Linked DNA regions of Homo sapiens: region 1 is linked to region 2. The links come from fine-mapping of genetic effects on gene expression. Tissue or cell type: ileum. Region 2 holds a variant in brackets; the other region holds the start of a gene. All regions are shown on one strand. Distances are from middle to middle.

Evidence for each region. PIP is the estimated chance that this variant, and not a neighbour inherited with it, causes the effect.
Region 1: it holds the start of TMEM220, and the variant in region 2 is fine-mapped to the expression of TMEM220 in ileum (GTEx, PIP 0.95).

The regions. Positions count from the first base shown.
Region 1 is chr17:10,727,890-10,732,889 of GRCh38, forward strand. It overlaps TMEM220 (transmembrane protein 220), which reads right to left and starts at 2,134. Exons shown (of 6, transcript NM_001004313.3): 1 at 1,891-2,134; 2 at 1,142-1,171. The coding sequence starts at 1,962. TMEM220-AS1 (TMEM220 antisense RNA 1) reads left to right here and starts at 1,888. Exons shown (of 4, transcript NR_073458.1): 1 at 1,888-2,011. RefSeq lists enhancers at 1,586-2,172, 2,173-2,759 and silencers at 1,773-1,942, 1,953-2,192.
Region 2 is chr17:11,619,927-11,624,926 of GRCh38, forward strand. All of the region lies in intron 6 of DNAH9 (dynein axonemal heavy chain 9), which reads left to right. Among named protein-coding and RNA genes, the nearest start is that of DNAH9, 24 kb to the left of the region's middle. The variant A/G (reference allele first, on the strand shown) is at 2,786.

The sequences.
Region 1 (5,000 bases), 890 kb before region 2:
GTGACTCATGTCTGTAATCCCAGCACTTTGGGAGGCTGAGGCAGGTGGATCACCTGAGGTCGAGAGTTCAAGACCAGCTTGACCAACATGGAGAAACCCTGTCTCTACTAAAAATACAAAATTAGCTGGGTGTGGTGGCGCATGCCTGTAATCCCAGTTACTTGGGACACTGAGGCAGAAGAATCACTCAAACCTGGGAGGTAGAGGTTGCGGTGAGCCTAGATTGCGCCATTGCACTCCAGCCTGGGCAACAAGAGCAAAACTCCGTCTCAAAAAGAAAAAAAAAAAAAGATATTTAGAAGATGTATGGAACAATGGCCCCCTCCTCCAAATGGTTCAAATCAGAGCCTTGCTTATATGAAGACTGTAGGTTTTACAGGATTTAATACTTTTCTTTGCTTTTTTTTTTTCTTTTTTTTCTTTGCTTTTTTTTTTTTGAGATGGAGTCTCACTCTGTCGCCCAGACTGGAGTGCAGTGGCACGATCTCAGCACACTGCAACTTCTGCCTCCTGGGTTCCAGCGAGTCTCCTGCTTCAGCTTCCCTAGTAGCTGGGGACTACAGGCGCATGCCACCACGCCTGGCTAATTTTTGTATTTTTTGGTGGAGACGGGGTTTCACCATGTTGCTCAGGCTGATCTAGAACTCCTGACCTCAAGTGATCCACCCGCCTTGGCCTCCCAGAGTGCTGAGATTGCAGGCGTGAGCCACCTTGCCCAGCCAGGAGTTAATACTTTCTAGAAATATAAGTCACTGAATTAGCAGAACCTCAGAACTTAAGCCTGTTATTTTCCGGTCAAAGGTTTGCATTGAGTGTCTGGCTAGAAACTCATAAGGAATTGTTCAACTGATCTTGAGAGGCCTACTCTAGGTCCTCAAGAAAGTCCTCAGTTGGGCCATCTAACCAAAGGGAATACTGCAGAAAGACCTGTTTCCAGAAAGTTCGAAATTCACACACACATTACATTAGAACTCTGATCCTGCCTATTAATATTTTAGGAAAAAGCGCTTCCCAAGGGTTTGATTTTTAAGTTTCTCAGAAAATTAAGCAGGGAGGAGGGGTAAAGACATAAAACCGTGTGTTTTGTGCCGTTCCCCAATTCTTCCAAACGGAGGAAAGCCTGGAAGCGGCTCATACTCACCACCCACACCTCTGCATCTGGGTCATTTACCTGGAACGCCAGAATACCAAGGTGTTAGCAGACATCCTGTGCTGTTCCATTCCTTTTAAATTCATTTAAGCACATTTTTTATTAATTTGTTAAGTGCCAGACACTGCAATAGGCATCGAGGGTACAAAATCTGAACAGGATATAGTCCAGATGAGGACGGGTGAAGGGGTTTCTGGCTGACACAACAGATGTTTTTAACAGGCAGCCACACATTTTTGAAAAGCCTTCACGGGAGCTCTGGAGAGGACTCGCCAACCCAGAACGGGTATTTTAAGGGCCCTCCACCCCCACCAGTCTCAAGAAATGAGGGAAATGATTATGAAGGGGGTCCCCAAGCCGACTAAAAAGTTTAATGATGCTATAAAGGGTTTTGGTCGGCTTCGTCTCCTAGGCCCTGAGATATGTTCAGTGTCGTCCGCGGGCCGGACGTTAACGCAGGAGCCAGGGCCGCTTCTTCTGAGGTCCCCTGGGAAGTTCCACGCGCGGAACCAGCCCCTTCCAGGGTGTGAGCCCTGGTATGGGACTCGCTTCCATGAACACATCCGCGTCTCTTAGACGGGGGAGAAAGTGGGGGCTCCCCAAGCAGAAAGCCCAAGTCCCGTCCTCCCCACTAACTGTGCGCCCCTGCGACTCTGCCCGCTAGTCAGTTACACGGCCCGCTAGGCCAGGGGGCGGAGCTGGGAGCCGGGCGGGTCCCCCTCCCACCGCGGCCGCCTGACCTGCACCAAGGCCGCCAGCGCGAAGAAGGCGGCCATGAGTCCGTTGCAGGCCCGCCACAGCGCTGGCGCCATGGCTCGGAGAACACGGCGCGGGGCGGTGAGTCCTGCCACGTGCGGGGCGGTGAGTCCTGCCACGTACGGTCCGCCTTCCTCCTTGCGCGGAGGGACCGAGACCCCCGCCTCGGTTTCGGTGCCTTGGGGACACTGCCGTGGCCGTCGCTCCGCCCGGGGGCGGGGAGCGAAGGGCGTGGGTGTAGCCCCCACTCAGCGACCCATTCAGCCCGCCCCGAACGCCGCGGGGTGTAGGCGGCGCCGTCCTGGTTTCGCGGATGGGAAAGCGAGTCCCTCAGGGAGCGCAGGTCTCGGTGGTGGACGGAAGTCGAATTTGAACCCGTATAGGTTCAACTCCAAACCCTGTTTTCACTAAAGCTACCTTCCTCACAAAAAAAAAAAAAAAGAAGAAAGAAAAAAAAGAAGGAAAAAAGGAAGGAAGGCAGGCGGGAGGGGAGAGAGGAAGAAAGAGAAAGAAAGAAAAAGAAAGAAGGAAAGAAAGGGCTGGGCGCAGTGGCTCACGCCTGTAATCCCAGCACTGTGGGAGGCCGAGGTGGGCGGATCACCTGAGGTCAGGAGTTCGAAAGCAGCCTGGCCAACATGGTGAAACCCCGTATCTCTACTAAAAATACGAAAAAATTAGTCGGGCGTGGTGGCGGGAGCCTGTAATCCCAGCTACTCAGGAGGCTGAGGCAGGAGAATTGCTTGAACCCGGGCGGCGGAGGTTGCAGTGAGCCCAGATTGTGCCACTGCACTCCAGCCTGGGCAACAAAGCGAGACTCCTCAAAAAAAAAAGGATAAAAATTGTTTTTACAAAAATAAGAAAGAGAAAGAAAAAGAGATGTGTGTGTGTGTGTGTGTGTGTGTGTGTGTGTGTGTGTGTGTGTTCTGTTTAGTATTTATGCATTTCCTTCCAAAGCTCAGGAACTTTCAAATCCCTGTAAGCATTATGGTAATTTCTAGAGTGACGACAGTTATATTAACATCTTATACGGCTCACAGCTTTTCGGCAGACAGGCTCATTTATCTTCATGGGCTTTTATTATAAAAGATATTTACATATTATACATATTTACAATTCTCTCCCACCACCAAAACCAACAAAATTTCCAAAATTGCTCATGAATTTCTTATGAACCGAAGACACTGAAATATTCACTGTTCTCCCCTAGTCTGTCTGGTCTTTTTCTGTTTTGTAATTCGCCCTTCTGCTTAGTTCCTCCCCGGGCTCATTTACACATCCATAGGCCTCATTTCTGCTGTTCTAAAGAGTCTTTATCGCTTCAAATCAGGAGCTTCTGTGCCTGTCCTCTTTTCCTTTGAGCTAAATCTCCTAAAACTGTCTAGTTTTTTTTTTCTTTCCCTCTCAGTTTCATTCTTTTCACGAAACACTTATTTCAAGAACGTTGTCTGCTCTGTGCCTGGTGCTGGGACCGTGAAGGTCCCGTGCCGGGACTAGGCAGGGAGCCTGGCGGCTGGCGGGGGTGGGCACCCGTGTTTGCAGAGGTGGGGTGGGGACAGCGGGGACCAGCACTGGGTGGAGTTCCACAGCTAAATCAGCCCTGGGATTGGAAACAAGCGAAGACTATTCTCACTGTGCTTTTCCTTACATAAAAGAAAAAAATGAGAGCGAGAGTGCTAGGGGCTGACTTGCATTCCCCCTGCACCCCCAATTCATATGCTGAAGCCCTAACCCCCAGTGCCTCAAAATGGGACTGCATTTGCAGACAGGGACTTGACAGAGATGATTAAGTTAAAATGAGGTTATAGGGTGGACCCTAATCCAATATGACTAGTGTCCTGATACGAAGAGGGGACAGTTACAGAGGGAAGACCACATGGGCACACAGGGAGAAGACGGCCGTCTGCAAGCCAAGGGGAGAGGCCTCATGAGAAACCAACCCTACCAACATCCTGAATTTGGACTTCCAGCCTCCAGAACTGTGAGAAAATAAATTTCCGTTGTTTAAGCCACCTAGACTGTGGTACTTTGTTGGGACAGTCCTAGCAAATTAATACAGGGAATGATTATAATACCCACAAGGAAACAATGGCATGGAAGTGCTTTTAAGCTCTTGAATGCCATACAACCACCATGAAGTTTTATAGTTTTCACTGTTGTCTGGGACTTTCTTTTTTTATTTCTATTTTTTTGAGACAAAGTCTTGCTCTGTTGCCCAGGCTGGAGTGCAGTGGCACGATCTCAGCTCACTGCAACCTCTGCCTCCTGGGTTCAAGTGATTCTCCTGCCTCAGCCTCCAGAGTAGCTGGGACTACAGGCGCCCACCACCATGCTGGGCTAATTTTTGTATTTTTTTTAGTAGAGATGGAGTTTCACCATATTGGCCAGGCTGGTCTCGAATTCCTGACCTCATGATCTGCCTGCCTCGGCCTCCCACAGTGCTGGGATTACAGGCATGAGCCACTGCACCCGGCTGGGACTTTCAAAGTCACCTTAGTGAGCGTCTGTTGGTTTTGCCTTTGCAGGGTTCAGTCCCCTTTCTTCGAGGATCAGTGTCTTTAGTACTGTGGATTACCACATGCACTATGGGTGGATGTGGACTACAGGGTTGACCGTGCTCCCCTCCTTTTGGGGATAGGCAGGTGACTTTGGCCTGCCAGCTGACATATCCCATTCTGTTGACCACTGTGATTGGGTCTAGGATGGGTATAGGATCCAAATTGCCCAGATTCAATCCTAGGACCTATATGGGACTTAGGTTGTCAGTAAAGGACAACCTCAGTTGAACTGAATTTTGGATCATCAATGATGTGTTCCAAATATTTGCTAAATCTGGCAATCCTACTCACACTATTAAAGAGAAGCTTTCTTTGTGATGAATGTGTAGAGCTGGTAGAATGTGAGCCTGGAGCTGTCAGGAGAAAGCCTCACAGGGAGAAAGGCTTTCTGCAGGTGAAGTTTAAAAGCCTGGATCCAGCCATGCCTGAAAATGGAAGAATCTCACAACCAACAGAGTCTCTTCTTTACATAAGCCCGTGTGAATTGGGTTTTTGTAATTTGCAACAAAGAATGATGACTTGTAAAGTCATGATTCAAT
Region 2 (5,000 bases):
GCCAGTCACAGTGGCTCATGCCTGTAATCCCACTAGCACTTTGGGAGGCAAAGGTGGGTGGATTGCTTGAGCCCAGGAGTTTAAAACCAGCCGGGCCAACATGGCAAAACGCCTTCTCTACAAAAAATACAACAACAACAAAATAGCCAGGTGTGGTGTGCACCTGTAGTCCCAGCTACTCGGGAGGCTGAGGTGGGAGGATGGCTTGAGCATAGGAGGCAGAGGTTGCAGTGAGTCGAAATTGTGCCACTGCACTCTAGCCTAGGCAACAGGAGCCAGACCTTGTCTCAAAAAAACAAACAAGGGCCAGGCATGCGGTGGCTCATGCCTGTAATCCCAGCATTTGGGGAGGCCAAGGCAGGTGGATCATGAGGTCAGGAGTTCGAGACCAGTCTGGTCAACATGGCGAAATCCTGTCTCTACTAAAAATACAAAAATTAGCCAGGTGTGGTGGCACACGCCTGTAATCCCAGCTACTCGGGAGGCCGAGGCAGAGAATTTCTTGAACTCGGAAGGCAGAGGTTTCAGTGAGCCACGATCACACCATTGCACTCCAGCATGGGTGACAGAACGAGACTCTGTCTCAAAAAAAAAAAAAAAAAAGAAGTTTTAATAAATAGTTGTCATTTGGATTGACCATCACATCACATAATAGTGGTTATAGTAGAAGTTTAGGAAATCCTGATCATAGACCCATTTAGGAAGAAGGCCCAAGGAATCAATGAACTAGTTCAATTGGTTTGCAGATTGCCCATAGCCTTTGAACTGGGTTTCAAATAAACTCTGCCTAGAAAGACTGACACTGAGCAAACCTTGGCTGGGCTATAACCATTCCCGCAAAGCTGGCTGCTTTGAACTTCTCCTCCTCCACTCCCCAATCTCCAAGGCAGCTCCCCAAAGTCCAAAACGAATGAGTCCCTGTGCAAAAGAAACATGACTTTTGCTCAAAGTTATGTCTTTCCCTCAATTATTTAAAAATAAATATGGATTTTAGGTGAAGTACTACGGTGAGAAGACATGATACTATTTCTTTGGATTGTTTCAATTCTCAAAACTTAATATGTTTAACAGGTCTCTCAACATTTTACAGCTATGTGTTTGCTGATTGGACTTGGAAGGGAGGGTAATGGGCCTAATAAAATGAAATACAGACTTAAACGGATTTGAGAAATTCAGGGTTGAGTTTAAGATTAAGACAAGAGGCCGGGCACGGTGGCTCTCCCCTGTAATCCCAGCCCTTTGGGAGGCTGAGGCAGGCGAATCACAAGTTCAGGAGTTCATGATCAGCCTGGCCAACATGGTGAAATCCCGCCTCTACTAAAAAGACAAAAATTAGCCGGGTGTGGTGGCGGGCGCCTGTAGTCCCAGCTACTCGGGAGGCTGAGGCAGGAGAATCGTTTGAACTCGGGAGGTAGAGGTTGCAGTGAGCCAAGATCGCGCCATTGCACTCCAGCCTGGGAGACAGGGCGAGACTCCATCTCAAAAAAAAAAAAAAAAAAAAAGACAAGAGCCAGAGGGACAGGGAAGGAACAAGAATCATATTCCCAGCTGTCATGAGCAGGTTTGGAGGAAAGAGAGCTATGCTGGGAGGAAGCCATGATGAACAGAGCAAACCATGGGAGGACAAGGACAGGAGAACGTAAGATTGGATCTGTTATCAGTTCAGAAAGTATTGGTTCAGCATCACCATGTGCCAGGCACGGAGCTAGGAACTGAGATACAAAGACGACTGAAATGCGATTTCCCTGTAAGAGGCTGGTGGACCTGCAGCCACTGCAGGAGAAGGAAGACAGACTAAAGGACGAGATCCGGGAGGAAAGACACAGAATCAGGAAAGTGGGATATACTGACTGCTATCAGAAAAGTGAGATTGGGCTGGGTGCGGTGGCTCACGCCTGTAATCCCAGCACTTTAGGAGGCCGAGGCAGGTGGATCACAAGGTCAGGAGTTTGAGACGAACCTGACCAACATGGTGAAACCCCGTCTCTACTAAAAATACAAAAAAAAAAATTAGCCTGGTGTGGTGACGTGCACCTGTAGTCTCAGCTACTCAGGAGGCTGAGGCAGGAGAATCACTTGAACCCGGGAGGCAGAGCTTGCAGTGAGCTGAGATCGCGCCACTGCACTCCAGCCTGGGGACAGAGCGAGACTCCGTCTCAAAAAAAAAAAAAAAAGTGAGATTGATGTGTTACTGGGAGCAAGAAAGAGGGGTCTCTAGCCCAGTAGGACTTTGACAAAAAGTGGGAACACAAGAGAAAATCAGTTGTGAAACTGGAGTGGGAATTTGCCAGGGAAGACAAAGATGGGAAGGGCATAAAGAGAGAAAATGCGTGAGAGAGAAAGCCAGAAGCTAGATCTTATGAAAGGCGCACCTTAAACCCTTCATCAGGATCACAGAGACTATAAATAATTGATTATCTAGCTTTATCCTAAATGCCTCTTTTTCCCTCAGCCGTTTCCATCATGGTTGATGTACAGCCCTTCACTCCTCCTGCACTCTGTATTCCTCTCATATCCACCACCAATTCCTTTGCTGCTGTTTAGTGAGAGGTGAGGGACACTCCAGCCCCAGCCCATGCCTGGCCTGGGCTGACCACGAAGAACGAATTTCCATCACTGCCTGGCAGCGGCCATGTTTGCAGATGCTCCAGCCCTGCAGATGGCCCTGGGAATGGTAGCAGAGCATGACCCCAGGCCCTGTGCACACATGCTAATGATTTGACTTTGCATATAGACAGCTATTCTAACATCAGGGCGCCTAATCTGCAGGATATGTTCAGTAAAT[A/G]TAAGCAGTGATGGCCACCAGCCTCCCTAGCGTCATTACTCTCACAATAAGTCCTTTCTCAGGCTGCTGCTGCTTTCTGAATCAAGGGCACAGGTGCATAAAAAGCAGTTGCCCCCATTTAATTAGAGGATGACATGAGTGTCACCAAGCTCCCTGCCTTGCTGCCTCTCATTCTCTTACGTGTCGTTCTGTCCTTGGCTCTGGTTAGCTGCTTTGCTCCTGTGCCCAGCTGCTCCTTTTCTTTTCTTTTCTTTTTCTTTTTTTTTTTTTTTTTTTCTCGAGATGGAGTTTTGCTCTTGTTGCCCAGGCTGGAGTGCAGTGGCACAATCTCGGCTCACGACAACCTCTGCCTCCTGGGTTCAAGCGATTCTCCTGCCTCAGCCTCCCAAGTAGCTGGGATTACAGGCATGTGCCACCATGCCTGGTTAATTTTTGTATTTTTAGTAGAGACAGGGTCTTTCTGTGTTGGTCAGGCTGGTCTTGAACTCCCAACCTCAGGAGATCCACCCAGCTTGGCCTCCCAAAGTGCTGGGATTACAGGTGTGAGCCACCGTGCCCGGCCAGCATTTCTTTTCTTGACTGTGTTTCCCTCTCTTTCCCTTTGTCTAATTCTTCCTCCCTTTTCACTTGGTCCCCCTTTCACTTTGTTCTCCTTCTCTATTTTCTAACTTCCCTGACCTCTTTGTTTGCCCTGAATTTCCATGTGTTTTCATCTTCCCACGGCTACTCCTTGCCCCTTTTCCTCATATTTCCTCCCCTCTTTTATTTTTAATCTCCCAAATGTCTGCTTAGATGCATCGCCCTTGCCCTTTGCCATCTTCCTCCTCCCCCAGCTCTTGCCTCCTGAGTCTGTGCAGTGGAACACAGGACTATCAGCTGTCCTCTGGCATATTTCATGTAGGCCTTTAGTTAATATTCTGTGTATCTCTGTGATCGATGCCTGATTGAAATGGGATTAATCTGCTCCTCTCCAGTAAGAATTATCATGAACTTAGCCTTATTCATCTTCTATTCTAATACAATCTATGGCCACTGAGATGATGGTAGCTGCAATTAATAAATACATGAAACACCAATGTGTTTATCTCTCTGCATGCTCTCGTCACGGGTTAGAGTGTGAAGGGCTGGTTTTTAATCCCCACAATTCTCCCAGATTTCATTTCTCTGATGTGAGTTGCTTTTTTATTCTTTCACTCTTTTTGCACAAGAGAATTTTGTTGTGCACATCCACTCTTCCTCTCTGGGTGCCTGCTAAATGCCAGAGGTGGGGCTGGCTTGGAAGAAGGGGTATACATTGCCCAGTATTTTTCGGTGTCTGCAGTAAGTGGAGTAATTGCATTTTCAGGATACCACCATTCTCCTCTGCCTTCTTATCATAACCATGATACAGGTAATCTCTTAGAGATTTAACCCTTGTGGAGGGAAGAACAAGGAATAGAAAACTAAAAAATTAACATGTTTCAAGAACCTATCCCATGCCAGAGCCTGTATCCTTGCAATCATCTTAAGAACTGGGGCCGGGTGCAGTGGCTTACGCCTGTAATCCCAACACTTTGGGAGGCCGAGGTGGTGGGATCACCTGAGGTCAGGAGTTTGAGACAAGCCTGGCCAACATGGTGAAACCCTGTCTCTACTAAAAATACAAAAATTAGCCGGGCATGGCGGCATACCCGTGTAATCCCAGCCACCCAGGAGGCTGAGGCAGGAGAATCGCTGGAACCTGGGAGGCAGAGGATGTAGTGAGCCGAGATCGTGCCACAGCACTCCAGCGTGGGTGACAGAGCAAGACTCCATCTCAAAAAAAAAAGAAAAGAAAAGAACTGGGTATCAGTATCTTTTCTTTAACAAATGAGCATAACTAAATCTGATACATAAATGAGCTCACCCATAGTTACACAGGTTGGAGAGGTGTAGCTGAGATTTGTACCCAGGGGGACAGCTGGTTCCAAGTACTGTCTTTGCACCAAACTTTGATATCCTATAGGGAGTTGTGAAGGTCTGTTTCCCTCCTTCCGTCCTTTTCTCCCTTCCTTCCTTCTTTCTTTCCTCCCACTTTCCTGGTTTGAGGATCCCAAACTGGTTTTGTGGTTTTATTCTGCCCTTATACACTCTGTTCTACTTTTGTACACTCAATTTTTGCCATACAATTTCTAGGTCTTTATATCAAAGTAAGTTACTCAGGTACAATTATAATTCCCATTTCATGAAAGGATCT